Linked DNA regions of Homo sapiens: region 2 is linked to region 1. The links come from fine-mapping of genetic effects on gene expression. Tissue or cell type: skeletal muscle. Region 1 holds a variant in brackets; the other region holds the start of a gene. All regions are shown on one strand. Distances are from middle to middle.

What was found. PIP is the estimated chance that this variant, and not a neighbour inherited with it, causes the effect.
Region 2: it holds the start of MTSS1, and the variant in region 1 is fine-mapped to the expression of MTSS1 in skeletal muscle (GTEx, PIP 0.99).

Annotation. Positions count from the first base shown.
Region 1 is chr8:124,561,618-124,569,002 of GRCh38, reverse strand. It overlaps MTSS1 (MTSS I-BAR domain containing 1), which reads left to right. Exons shown (of 14, transcript NM_014751.6): 7 at 467-624; 8 at 1,825-1,932; 9 at 3,244-3,341; 10 at 6,011-6,221. LOC105375740 (a long non-coding RNA gene) reads right to left here and starts at 120. Exons shown (of 2, transcript XR_928608.3): 1 at 89-120. RefSeq lists a silencer at 6,938-7,027. The variant G/C (reference allele first, on the strand shown) is at 3,375.
Region 2 is chr8:124,724,907-124,732,291 of GRCh38, reverse strand. It overlaps MTSS1 (MTSS I-BAR domain containing 1), which reads left to right and starts at 3,819. Exons shown (of 14, transcript NM_014751.6): 1 at 3,819-4,408. The coding sequence starts at 4,337. LOC105375741 (a long non-coding RNA gene) reads right to left here and starts at 3,753. Exons shown (of 3, transcript XR_002956670.2): 1 at 2,226-3,753; 2 at 1,172-1,234.

The DNA of each region.
Region 1 (7,385 bases):
CCTTCTATCCAGACAGAGGCTCTTTGATTGAGATTGACCCAACAAAGCCAGCCCGTGCCCGTTTTTGGAAACACCCACAGGCTCTTACCTTGTTTCCACATCTCTTAGCCTCTTCAGAATGTTCTGCAAGGAAAGAATGCTGTCTGGCTCTGTGTTCCAGGGTTGTGTTGGCAGAAGAGTTGGTGGGGGTTGTGCAGTGTGAGAAGGCAAGTCATGAAGAGTTGCCCCAGGACATTTTCCTTGTCAGGAATAAGCCAGGCTAAATGTGCCCTTTGGGCATTGAAAATTGGAAATGGCTGGTCCTAGAAAAACAGCTGCCTTAAATCCTTTTGGGGCATGAATAAATACTTTTTTTACATCCTGGAAAATTGTGGTTTTGACTCCAGCAAGGACCCCAGGGAGGAGGGGCACTTGTTCCAGAAGCTGGTATTTCAGCAAGCCGTGCTTGGGTCTCTGTTTTTTGCAGGGAGAGGTGATATCCAGCCTCAGTTGGACAGTGCTCTCCAAGATGTCAATGATAAGTATCTCTTATTGGAAGAAACAGAAAAGCAGGCTGTCCGGAAGGCTTTGATTGAAGAACGTGGCCGATTCTGTACCTTCATCTCTATGCTGCGGCCAGTGATTGTAAGTTAATGGAAAACTCCAGAAGGTTTAAACTGCTGGTGTAGAGGTGGCTTCCTTCTAATTTTATCCATCCACTGTTGAGTCATGGAGAATCTACTGTCAGGAATCATGATGGTGGTATCTCCTGTACAGACCAGCGATTCAGTGCAAGTTGATGGCCATGTAGCTCACTCCTCATTCACTGTTCTAGTACCACTTGTTCCCCGTTACTTTGTCTCACCAAGTCAAGAAGGCCCAGCAGGGTGGTTCTCAAAGTGAGGTCCCCAGGTCAGCAGCATCACGTGGGAACTGGCTAGAAATGCAAGTTCTTGGGCCCAACCCAGACCCACCAAGTCCAAACCTCTGGGGGTGGGGACCCAGTCGTCTGTGTTTTAAAGGAGCACTCCAGGTGGTTTTGAGACTCACTGTTGTAGCCGAGTACTAAGGGGTGACCATGAGATGAATATCCAAGAGCCTCAATGAATCAATTTAGACTTAATTTTTAAGGAAATCATTTGCATGCCGTAATTGAGAACTTGCACTGCAGGCGTTCTGGAAGCTGATTCGAAGGTACCAGCTCATTTCCCTTAGCCCTAGCAAAATGTCTGAATTTGAGTTGTTCCCCTGAGCACAGAACTTTTCCATGGATCGTTCTAGCCCGGCCCGTGGTCCCAACTTGGCACTTCGATAAAGCACATGGGATGTTTCTTCCATGGTCCCCAGCTCCTGTCTTACTTGTCTTTTACTAAGTTGCTGGAAAAGCACAAGAAAGAAGGGGAAAAGTTAGCTTCTGTTGAACACACAGGCACTGTCACAAAGATCTGGACCAAAATATATCCAAGTCGTGTCATCCATTGAAGCTAAGCAACTTCAGAAAAGGGCCACAGTATGAAGAGGGCTGTGCTGCAGGATCCCGTGGGAACACACAGTCAGACCATCTGAGCAGGCCTGGCAGTCCCCCAGGCCCTGGGAGGGAGGCCTGTGTGTTCCCCACTGTCCCCTGTGCACAGGTCACTCCTCCATTATGGCAGATTTCTTTTTCCATCTCATTTCCCAAAAGAAAAGGCATGTAGTGCCTTCAGCAAAGATTTGCCAGTCCCAACAGTGCCTTTTCTGAAAAACTGAAAGGGTTATACAGAGACCCTAATGAAAACAATTGGACTAGAGCGATGAAGGGAATCACTCATGATAATAACATTTCATGAATGACTTTTCCTTCAGGAAGAAGAAATCTCAATGCTAGGGGAAATAACCCACCTTCAGACCATCTCGGAAGATCTAAAAAGCCTGACCATGGACCCTCACAAACTGCCCTCCTCAAGTGAACAGGTAGGCTTCAGGGGTTAAGCACTTACAGGATCAAACCAAAGAGGTAAAAGCTCAAGGCCCTGAGTGTTCCTGTGGCATGTGTCACGTCTTAAATTGTAGTCATATTCACCACGTCCTTCATGATGTAATATATGAAATCACCACAGCGAGCTGTTACATAGAACCTATTGTGTGTCAGGCACTGTCCCAAGCTCTTTACATAGCCTGACTTCCTCCATTCATCTTCATGATTATGCTTGTTTTATAGAGAATGATGCAGAGGCACTGAGAGATGGAGTCACTTAGCCAGGTTCAGCTAGCTAGCAGGTAGTGGAACTGATATTTGAACCAAGTTGGTCAGGTTCCAGATCCCATGCACTTAATTGCTGTGTTCATCTGCCCTCTAGAAGTCAACCCTCCTAAGAACACGTCGCTGGTGTGTTTTGATTGACACTGTCAACCATTCTCCATTTCTCCCATTCTAATTGAGCAATGCATGGAGAGCTCTCTCATCTTATGAAAAAGATGACATTTTTATGCTTTATTCATTTAATTCACATCACACGCACACTATGGGAAGAGACATATTTGGGGGAACTGATGAATCACATGCTGGCTTTTGTGCTTGGTAACAATCTTTTCGTCTCCTTGGAGAGCTGGCTCAGAGGGCAAATTTGGGAGCTCATGTTTTCTATTCTATCAAATTATATTTATTAGACCAGAGCATGCATGCATTCACTTGACAAATAAACATTTACTGAGTGCTTCTTATGTGAATGAAAGGTGGACCTTATACTCATGTGGTCCTTTGTCAAGCAACGGAGACAGATATAGAAATAATGGTGAAAGAATTGGCTTGTTCTTGATTCTGTCAGGCTTTAAAATTTCTAGTGCTGGTCAAATAGGGCAGAAATGACCACTGAATATCAAGTGGTTAAAATGCGCTACCAACAAGTCTGGGAACCATGATTAACTTTATGGCATTACAAGAGGAAAATCCTGTAAATTCTAGCCTTGGGTATAAATGGCTGTTATAAATTATTAATTGGTCACTGTATTTCTCCCTCTCTCGACTGATATTTCATGATTTTCCTTTTCCCTTCCTTTCCTTCTCCCTATTAATTATAGTTTTACTTTCTCAGTAAAAGGATTATGATATTGATGGATTTGGTACTGTGGCTCTTCAATTTAAAAAAAATTTTTTTAACATGTTTTGCTTTCATTCCCACCCCCACGATGGCAGCGTTTTGATGCTTTGGTGGATGTTAAGCTTTGATGGCTAACGCTTCCCCTCTCAGCACCTCATTCACCCAGCTGGCTCTGTCCCCTTAGGTGATTCTGGACTTGAAAGGTTCTGATTACAGCTGGTCGTATCAGACGCCACCCTCTTCCCCCAGCACCACCATGTCCAGAAAGTCCAGTGTCTGCAGGTGAGTGAAGCCGGGGTCCACTCTTGCTTTCAG[G/C]ACGGGTCATTTTTCTTTATGCTAATGTGAGCAATGGAGCCAGTCCTTATCTCTTAGAATGGCTCATTCTCAAACAGGAAATGGGATGATGAGCTGAAAGAATGGTAATAATTTTGGTCTTGCTCTTTAGTCTCTGGATTAATTTTGGATCAGAAAGAAAACCCCATTAGCCCTTGACTTGTGGATGTAGCTTATTCTCTCTCACTTGTATGTTGTAGGGATTTTCCTATTCTATGAGATCACATTTGATTTTCCTGTTTAGCAGAGTGAAAACCTTCTAAGGCCTAAAAAATGGTGAACCTGGGTTGATTTTTACACAGGCTGATCTCACTGTTGCCAGAACAAACGAAGGAAGTAACAATGGCTTATGCCCTCATTTCACCCCATATTTTTGTTTCAGGGTTTCATAAAGTAAATAGAGTTCTTGCTCTGTCAGTCACTGCTACTACTACCACCACTACCACGACCACACCTGTATTAATTAGTACTGTTCCCTATTGGAACAAAATCTGTTGGAATAGTTCTGCCATCTGCAAAACTGTTGTCTAGCAATTTTCTGTTAGAAGTCAGTTCTTGGCTTGCCGAGTAGGAAAGTTTCTTTTCCTCTCCTTGAAAGATGGAAGCATGATGTACCATCTATCTCTCTTGGTATAGTAGTCCTGTTACTCTTTTAATTTAACTTTCAAAGCCAAATGAGTTTCCACTTCCTGTGTATTAGCACTGAGAGTAGAGGGCAGGATGTATCTGCTCAATCTGTCTGTGGTGATGTTTTGGTGCACGCTGATGCCTATTTCCTTTCACTGCGGAGCTTGTACACTACACACTTAGCAGGAAGTTCAGACCTAAGACGCTGCATCCTGGACATTCTGCCCCCTGAAGATATTGGTTTGTTTCTTATCTTCTGTCGACTGTGTGTGTGTGTGTGTGTGTGTGTGTGAGTGAAAGAGAGACCTTTTTATTGTTGCCAAGAAAAATCTCTCATTAGTGTAAAACAAAGTTGCGTGGCTGTTTTTTTCTTCCTTATAATTTTAGTTTGAGTAGAAAACCATGTTGCACTGACATCTGCAACTCTGAGGCTGCCGGGGTGGAGTTGCTGTGAGCTTTACTGTCGGTCCCCAACTGCCGCCTTCTGGCTGACTGGAGGGGAAAGTCAAAAATCATGATATTTATTCCTCACTGCAGCGATTTCCTCCAGCACGCTCCCCTATGTCTGTCTGAACATTTGCACCAAGTAATTCTAGTGTAGAACAGTCACGCGGCCCTTGAGTACCTTATTAGCTGCCAGATTTTGCAAGCCAGAGTCTCTTGCAGGCTTAGGAGCAGAAACCATGACTTTTCCTATCCCAGCCCTAGTTATTTACTTCATCCCTGCTGCTGCCTCTACAACTGCTCTTTTTATTTCAGCTCCGTTTGTTTGGACCATGGGAGTCTGTTTTCTGCTTTTTATGATCTAAGTTACTATACAGAGTGTGGAGCATTTTTTTTTTTTTTTTTTTTTTGAGATCGGGTCTCGTTCTGTTGTCCAGGTGGAGTGCAGTGGCATAATCTCAGCTCGCTGCAACTTCTGCCTCCTGGGTTCAAGTGATTCTCCTGCCTTGGCCTCCCAAGTAGCTGCGATTATAGGTGCCTGCCACCATGCCTGGCTAAGTTTTGTATTTTTATCAGAGGCGGGGTTTCACCGTATTGGCCAGGCTAGTCTTGAACTCCTGACTTCAGGTGATCCACCCGCTTTGGCCTTCTGAAGTGTTGGGATTACAGGCGTAAGCCACCGCACCTGGCCAGGAGCATGTTTCTTTTGAGTGGAGATGGAAGGCAGACAGAAATCCAGAGCGGGTGTGTCATTATTTGACATCCTGTTTACTGTGCCATTTCAAGAGCAAACAGCTGAGCATTGATTGCCCTTAGTCGCTGAAAGCTGCCTGCCTCTTGCCAAGTGTGCTATTGTGCCAGACCCACAGATATTTTAACACAGAAACAGCTGGGGTCAGAGTAAAAACATTAATTAAAGCATCACTTTGTTAAAAGGTAAAACATATGCACACCAACATAGTGAGTTGATTTGCTGATGTTCTTGACAGCGGGCTTGACCAGACTCAGCTAGGATGAAATCACCTCAGCAAATCCATCGGCAGTGCTTAGCTGGGTTGGCCTTGGTCATGTGGACCCAGATGGTCCATCCAAGAACATTCCAGTCATGCTGAAGCCCCAGTGGACTTTTGCTGCAGGCTCATGGTTCCTGCAGGCAGATTAACCCTGTCCCTTTTCTTGCTACTGACATCAGCTCCCCTCGTTTTGGTGGTAGGCGAAGCAGCAGAGTTGGGCGCACTTGACGTTTTAGAACCCCAGACCTCCCTCGTAAGAATGCCACATGGTTACCATCGGAGACCTGAGTCCTGGCAGCTGTATTTCCCCCTGGGTCACCTGGAAAAGCATTTTGTTGACTACCTTCATGATTTGGTGTTTTGAAAACGTGTTTTGTGGTTTGCACTGCATCTCCAGGGCAGAGAGCTAATTGCATTATGTTGTGCTTCTCTCTCTTCTGCCTCATCTGTTCCCCTCCTTCCTCCTTCCTCTTACCACTGCTCCCCTTTCTTTACCTTCCGTGCCCACCCCTCACCCCTGCTTGTCCTCCACAGCAGCCTGAACAGTGTCAACAGCAGTGACTCCCGGTCCAGCGGCTCCCACTCGCATTCCCCCAGCTCACATTACCGCTACCGCAGCTCCAACCTGGCCCAGCAGGCTCCTGTGAGGCTGTCCAGCGTGTCCTCCCATGACTCAGGATTCATATCCCAGGATGCCTTCCAGTCCAAGTCACCATCCCCCATGCCGCCAGAGGCCCCCAACCAGGTAAGGGTGCCCTTGGCTCCAGGAGCAGCTGTCACACCTGGTGTCCTGACCACTGTCAGTGGCCAGAACCAAAGAAGCACCTTGGCTTAGACAATCCCCTGCCCACTGACTTGAGAAACCTCTGGTTTAATTTCTCATCTTTAGATGTATTGTTCCCCTAAAGGGAGAGGTGCTATAAGTGGGTTTGAAGCCTGTCTCCATGGTGGTAATGGTTGCATTACCACATCGATTTGGGGAGCTCTCACGTAAGTAGATGGATTGAAAGAGGTTTGACCACTCTCAGGCGTCCCTGTAAGTGCCCAGCTTGGCATAATTAAATGCTATAATTAAAGGGCATTGCACAATGGGGACACCTCCTCCCCCACATCTCAGGTTCTCCCTGAATGGCTGAGATTCTATGGTTGAATAGCGCTTCCGATACCATCCCTTGGCGCTCTCAGGTTCCTTTTATCAATCTGTGTTGAGAATGAGAATGAATCATCAGAGCTTCTGCACATAATTCTGTTGGCACTTAGATTCTGGAAGGGAAGGTGTGGCAGAATCTCTTCAACTACAGCTGGGTTTAATGGTGCTAGGCCCAGCCCAGCCCAGTGGTTCCAGCTGGAGCAGAACGCAGGAGCTGGCCAGGGCATCTGAACACTCTTCATGTGCATCATCAATGTATGTGATCCTCTCTCTGTCCTCTCTCCCTTAGTGTCATTGGGTTGGTGTCGGCCTTGAACTTGGCAAGTAGCTCTACATACAGAATGCTGGGTGCCCCACAGCCCCACCTGCTGGGAAACCCATGTCAGAGCTCTGCGTTCCTCTCCTCACAGCTCAGCGCTCCCATTAGCATTTTTCAGCCATCCTGGGGACTGTGGCCTCTGTCTGCCTTCCTTGGATACACACTCAATTTTAAACGCACTCAGAGCCAAGAGCCACGGCTATAGTTTGAGAGTGCTTGAGAGTGCGTGTCCCACCTGGGGTGCTTGGCTTGGTCTGTAAGGAGCTCCTCTTCCCCGCTGTGTGCTTCACTAAACCATATGTGCTGCTCACAAGCAGAGAGGGCAAAGGGTCGGGAGGAGGGCTGGAATGTGCAGTTCCTCCGGGCTGTTCTAGTGTGCAGCATAATTGTGTGTGTGTGTTTAATTGACAAATTAACATAGTAGTGTGCACTGACGCCCC
Region 2 (7,385 bases), 160 kb before region 1:
CTTGGCACACAGTAAGTATACACTAAAGGTTAGTTATTTGTATATTTATCATTACCATAGCTCATCTATGAAACAAAATTGGCTTAAGCTCGCCCTGGTCACCTATAAACAGAATTCTTTCTGATCGAGTCATTAAATTCTTTAGACAAATTCGGGAGTTATCAGCATATAAAAGTTCCCATTTAGAAACAGGCCCCTTTTGAAAATGAAATTAGCGAGGATCAATTAAAAATATCTGTCACATTGACTCACCCTAAGAGATGTTTTGTATGTGTTTTGTGGATGGCAGGCTGAAAAATGCCGAAATATAACCCTAATGTCCAGAATGTGTCACTGGGGCAGGAAACCAATGAAAGGTGATGAACTGATTAGTAGCAAGGCTGAAGGGGGGTGGCGGGGAGCGTAAAGAGCAAGTTCTCCCCCCACGGACCAGCTGTCCCCCAGGCCTAGGCCAGGTGGGAATGTGAGCCCTGAATTGCCACATGTTCCTATCTTCCTGGAAGTGCTGAAACTTTGTTCCTTGAGGTGAAGTTTCCCAACTTCTAAATATTTTTAGATTTCCCAATTTTTTATTTTTTTTTTTTTAGATTTTCCAATTTTAAAAACTCCTCTGCAGGCCAGTTTGTAGCTTCCAATCATGGGAGTCAAATAGCGGGGTTGGAAGATCCGAAAGGGGAAAGAAGTCATAATATTTTGTATTTCTCCAGGACTATTTGAGGAAGAGAGGCTGTATCTGATGGTTCTAGGTCGCCAAGACATTGTGTCTGCTCTCTAGTGGGGTAGGAACCTGGTTGGGTTCCATTCCTGAGACATTTCTTGAGCACCTGCTTTGTACCAAACCACGCCTGTCCTCCCAGGAGCATCCAATCTCCTTTGCTTTGTTTATGTGCTCCCAAGCTGCCTGCTGACTACTAATTTGACTTCTGCAGTGCCTTGATATGGAGAACTGGGCTCTCAGGGGAACAGATATCCCTGCTGCAAGTTATAAACCAAGACTGTCCAGGACCTGATCTCCCTCTCATTAACAGTATTTCTGGGGCTTAGCTCTTTCTGTACCATATAAGCATGATGAGAAAAATATATATTTTATAAGTAAGATAAGGGTCTGGTCAGAGTAGCAATAAAAGAGCATGAAAAAGATATTAGTTTAGAAAACCTTAAGTTTACATACCATATGAAGCAATTCAGAAATATATCTGGTTATTTCGAATCCATCAGAGGCATCTGAGTTTACCTAAAAGTGTAAAATATTATACATTACACAAAACCCAACATTTCATCATGTAAACAACAAAAACGGGACACCCTATTGTCGCAGAGGCAGATTCTATAACCTGAAACCCCTCCTGCCATAGCCACGTAGACACAGTTGGTAAAATGTAATCAGAATCTCTTTAAATATATGCAGAGCCAGTCTAAAAGAAGGGAAGTCCCCAACAGCCAGAAACAAAGGAGAATCTGAAAACAAGGAAAGAATGTATGACAGCTGGCCAGGCACAATGGCTCACGCCTGTAATCCCAGTACTTTGGGAGGCCGAGGCGGGTAGATCATCTGAGGTCAGGAGTTCGAGACCAGCCTGACCAACATGGAGGCTGAGGCAGGAGAATCGCTTGAACCTGAGAGGTGGAGGTTGCAGTGAGCCGAGATCGCGCTACTGCTCTCCAGCCTGGGTGACAGAGTGAGGCCCTGTCTCAAAAAAAAAAAAAAAAAAAAAAAATTGCCAGGTGTCACTCCCACTTTCCTGCATCTGGGAACACTTTTCCAGCCTCCCTTTCAAGGAGTTCTCATGAGAGACAAGGGCCTGGTGGTCAGGCCCAGGGAAAAAGGCCACAAGAGAGGTATGCTTTGGCAAACATTGCTAAAGTTGGGGTATTTGGGGCATTGAAATTTAAGCATGTGGCAGGAAAGCTAGACCAAGTGTCCACTGGGCTAAGGCCCCTTATCCCAGGAGTTCAGGAGGCTGGGTAAAAGAGAGACCTGGGGCATGGAAGTCAGAAAACCAGGGTTGGATTCCTTCCAACAGTGCAACAAGGACCAGAATGATAATTTCCTTCAAGTAGACATAATACGTATAAAATGCCCAGAATGCACACAGTAGACCCTCAGCAATGTGCCTGGGACAGCACACCAATGTTACAGAAGTGAAATGGGGCCAGGGCTGGACCTGAGCCTTGGCCTCATCCCTGCTTCTTCTGTTGATAAGATTTATCGAATGATTACTTACGAGATGCCAGGTACCACTTGAAGTGCTTTCATCGATCAGCTCATGTAATGTTCAGAACAGCCCTATCAGGTAGAAGCCATCATTATCCCCATTTACAGATGGATGAGGAAACTGAGGCCCAGAAAGGTTAAGTAACATACCTAAAGGCATACAGTTAGTAGGTTGTGAACTGGAGTTTGAATCCAGGCAATCTGGCTCTACAAGCAGTCATCTTGATAGTTAGAATACCAATAGTATTAAAATCACAATAATGATTGGCAGCAAACGATGTGTCAAGCACCCGTTATTGGCAAGGTGAAGATGAGTCGGATGCATTCGAACGCCCTTGGGGACAGGATCCAGCAGGGGTGATCAAGAGATCAGTTACTTCCTGAAGGTAACACCCTTCCGGGTGATTTCGGGGAGACGGATGGGGAAGGTGGGTTGCAGTTAAGAGTTGGGCAGAGTGATCCAGGGGAACATTATCTTCTGCAGCTGTGCTGTGTAACTCCATGCATCCCTTTGATCCATAAAGTTTTCAAAGCCAGACCTTTTCCCATTACGGAGTGAATCTGACACAAGTGTACAGAATTTTGCACTTGGTTTCTTTTGGCCCCACTCCCCCCAGTCTTTTCTTTTGTTATGTTTTGTGCTTCAAATGGTTAGCTCAAGGGTTAAAGGAACTGTCCGGAGTTAGGTGCCTATGTCTTAATATCTTTTAAAAGTTGCTCATTTGATTCTCCTCCCTCTGGCCCATTTGGCGTTCATCTGAATGAGGGCTCCTGGTTATGCAGATAGGCAGTGGAGCTGTGAAAATGGACCACTAGGCCCCAAATCAACCTGGGCACATTTGCGCTCTGCAGGTTCAACCTCCCAGGAGGGCTCCCTGCGGTTATACCAACGCTGGCTGCTCTCAGTGGGCCTGAAAACCATCAACCGTCCAAGTCATAGGCAATCAGCAATCTCGATAGACTGATGGATCGTGGACAGAAGCTCTAACGCTGTTTCCATTCATTTAGCAACAGCAAATCAATCCACTTTCCCAGCATCCTGCAACTTTATCGAACTCGGCATCCCATTGCAGGATACGCCCCCGAACTCTCCTTAATTATATATTTCGCTATTTGCAATCAGGACTCGGCGATGCAGTCCTGACATCAGAGAATGGGCGTCTTCTCAGAAGGCCGCAGTAGCGGCAGCAGCTTTCCCGCCCTACTGAGCGCTCACTACAAGCGGGCTCTGGGCTAGGCGCGCCACCCGTGCAAGTCCCCGGGGAGCGGCGGTGCACCCTCCGTCCCGCGCGCTCGCAGCCATTGTAGGGGTGGGCGCTCGCCAGGCAGGGTGCCGACACGCCCTCTCCGCGCTGCGACGGGCGGCCGGGGGAGGAGAGGGTGCGCTGTGCGCACCGGAGGGAGAGGCTCCGGCCCAGCGCCGCCTGCCCGCCAGCAGACCAGCAGGCTCCTCTTTGCGGCGGGTGCCCCACGCGCCTCTCGGGCGCGCGCTCCCAGCCCCGCCCGCGTGCGGCGGCCGCACGGCCGCGAGAGCGCGCCTCCGCTTGGCGGGCACGGCCGCGAGCGCGCGTGCGCCCCTCCGAACGTCCCCGGGAGCCCAGCCAGAGCGAGCGCCGGGGCCGGGCGCGCAGGAGTGAAAAGGAGGCGGCGGCCGCAGCTGCGAGCAACAGATCCGGACGCCGCGAGCTGACCCGCTCTGCTGTTGGGCGATTTTTTTTTAATTGCAGAAAAATTTATTAAATTGGAAAATCTTGCGTTTTTCAATGGCGCTGGCCCCGGGTCAGCGGGCGATTTTCTCTGCATCAAGATGGGCTTTGCCGTTTCCGTAGTGGGCACCAGTGGTGGCCTGATTGTCAGTCTTCTCCCGGCATTTTTAAGGCCAGGAGCCGAGCGCTGCTTGTAGGCGAATACCCTACAGAGCGGTTTGGCTTTTTAAATTACTGTTATTATTTTGGGCAGAGAACAGTCGGTCTGGTGCACCCCGTCCTCGCTGCAGAAGAGGCTGCGAGTCCGAGGTGGGTCTCTCGGAAGGTGAAATTCCTTCTGGGGTGAGCGAGCCCCGGCCCCGCGCGCAGTCCAGCGGCCCCGCGTGTGTGCCCTCGCCCTGCCGGAGCCGGGAAAATGGAGGCTGTGATTGAGAAGGAATGCAGCGCGCTCGGAGGCCTCTTCCAGACCATCATCAGCGACATGAAGGTAGGACGCCGGGGGTGCGGCTGCGGCGCCGGCCGCCGCGCTCTGACCTCGCCGCCGCGCTTCGCCTCCACCCCGGGCCGGGCACCCGGCCCTTCCCTGCAGTGTGGCCACCGGCCACCTGCGGGAGCTCCCGGCCGGAGTGTCACCTGCTCACCCGGGGCGCTGCTCCGGGCTCTGCGGGGTCACTGGGCGGGTGGCTTCTCTGGGGGGTGTCTGCTGTCCCACGCCATCTCCCCCGCTCATTGTCCCAGGGGGCGGCACCATTTCTTTCCCTCGGGGGCTCAAGGCACTGGCTGCAAGTTTTCCCATTGTCTGTCCCTGAAGTAAGTGTCTGGGACCCGCGGGGGCTGGATGCCCGGGAGGACACCTGATTCCTCCGGGCACGGGGTGGGGGCGCCTGGCGCGGTGGTGGGGAGGAAGTGGGGGCTCTGCCCGCTCGCAGGAAGGAGTCCCCTAGCCTAGGAGACTGAGAGGGAAAGCCAGTCCCTCCTTGGCTGTCAGGTCTACTTGGAGTGGGGTATCTGAGCAAATTAGTTATTAATTGGGCCGTTCCGAAGCTGGTAAAGGTGTGCGTGCCCTCTCTTAGCCCTCCCGCGGGGCGCGGGGCCGAAGTTCCCGGGCAGCCTTGCAGGGGCCCCGCCTTCTCCCAGCTGAGCCTAAAGGCAAGATTGGGGCCCCCGAAATAACTGTATCCTGCCCTCCCAGACCCAAACGGACACACACTCTAGGTTTTCTCTTGGAAGGGTTGTGAAGATGGTGTGTGTGTGCGCGCGTGCATGTGTGTGTGCGCGCGCGCGCGTGGGGGCGGGGAACAACACCCTGGTTTTTTCCTGCAAAGGGTGGGACTGGGGATAACCTGATCCTCGGATGTGGATTTTCTGGTGCCTAGAGATAGACCAGGGCCCCGTGTTATTCATCCAGAGGAAATAAAACCAGCCGCGCGAGCTGGCTGGAGGTGGGAATTGGGAGCGGTGGGGGAAATTATTTTTTTAATGTGTATTTAGGGAGCTTCTCTTTGGCTCTGGCCCAGCCCCAGTTTGCCTCAACAGATCCAGATCCGGGGAGGTGGTGTTTAATTAAAAGCTCGCTTCCAAAACGAGTGGGCAGGTTTGGAAAGCTGTGCACCGAGTGGGTGTGGACAGCCCCTCTTCAGCCGCTGCCTGGGCGCCTGGAGGAGCTTTTGTCTGATGAAGTGTAAGGTTTAGAGAGGCTTCGTGCCTCGGAGATGGTCTTTGGGAAGGAATGCTCAGCTGTCATGGCCTGCTTCCACCTTTCAGAACCAACTGCCACCTCACCCAGGGTGAACTTTATCAAGCTGCCTCTGTCCTGGTTTTGTCCATTTTGAAATCTTTCTACAGCTCTCGTGCCTTTTGTCACAAATTGTCCTTAGCATAGCATAATCTGCAGCCAGACTCTGCTTGCCCAGGAATGCTTATAGTCCAGGCACTTGGAATTAGATGGATTATTCCCTGTTGAAAGACAGCCCCTTTCATTCTGTTGCCCCCAGTGCACACTGACGGATCTGTCCACTGTAGTCCTGGAGTGATCACATCTGGAGTTTTTTCTCTTTGTTCTTTAATCCAGAATCCAGGCTCGGTTCTTCCCATTCACTGTTTGAATCGAAAGCCGTTCAGAAGGTGACCTGCCCAAAGGGTGGGCTGTCCTGCTTTCCACCTGCCATCCTGTGGCTGCGTGGCACTATGCCCTGGCTGGGGACTCACGGGTGCCAAGGTGGTGTTTTTTCCCCTGCATGGTTCCAGTTAAAAATAAAGACATTTTCTTTAATGCCCAGTCACGGCGGAATCTAGAGTTTGTGTATCCTGACTTCTTTCGGTTTGAGTTTAGTAGGTTTGTTCAGTATCCTATGGGAAATCATTTATTTTAAAGTTTTTTTTTTTTGGTTTGTTTGTTTTGGCAGTAAAATTTTAAAAGCAAGGTGGAATGGAAGACTAAAACATGCCTTGGGTTCTGCAGAGTTTTAGACTTTTGGAGACTCGAGAGATGAAGAGAGAGGGAATGTCTGATTTCCAAGATTGTTTATGCATAAGACAATTCTTGAATATTTTCTTGGACTTTGCTTCTTAAAAGACTTCATCATGGATTAGATGACAGTGACATTTTAAATGGAAATTAAAAATTTTTAAATTTGAACAGATCTGATAAGCAGTATATAGTGTGCAGATGCATGAAGTCACCAGCAACAAAAGTCAGTTTTTAATATCTGAAATCAACTGACTTTCTAATGACCTGCTTATCCTCTTGTTCTCTTCTTTAAACTCCCATAATGGGTTTATAATGCCTTTGGTCTCCTATCTGTTTGCTCTGAGGGAAAAGCGTAAATGTCGGAAACCCATTTGGAATGCCATCTTGATAAAAATTTTTAGGTTATTTTCTCAGAAGTGATGTTAGGCTGGGTGAGAAAAGGATAAGGAAAATGGTTTTATTAGTAGCATTTGATTCTTCAAAATGTACAGCAGCACAGGAAGGGAGTCAATTTCCTCTTTGGAGAAAAAAAGAAAACAATAAAAGGAATAATTTCAAGGCCTGGCACCCTCCATCTTCTGAAACCAGAGAACCTCAAGACATGGAAAAGCAAGAGAGAGAGGATTCTTTGTGCTTTCCTCTAAAGATGCTTCATCTAAGTCCTCGGCTGGCTGTCAGGGCATGGGTTTTATCCTTTTCAGGCAGTAAGGTGTGGAAGAAATCCTGACTTTTTCTCCACTGGGGAACAGCACCATGTAAAGCAAGCAGCAGCTAGTAAACAACATATCGATTCCTTGACGAGAGGAAGCCTGGTGGTTTGTTTCCCGTTTATTCTACCCTGCTGTGGTGGTGGTCGCTAATGAACGGTGTTGTGCAAAATCACCTACTGGCTGCCTTTCCTCCCATCCATGCAAATTAGTAAATCGCTGATCAAATTGGCTGGTGTGAGTTGGTTCCAGAGGAAAGGGGAGACAAGATATTCACGTGGCTGGAG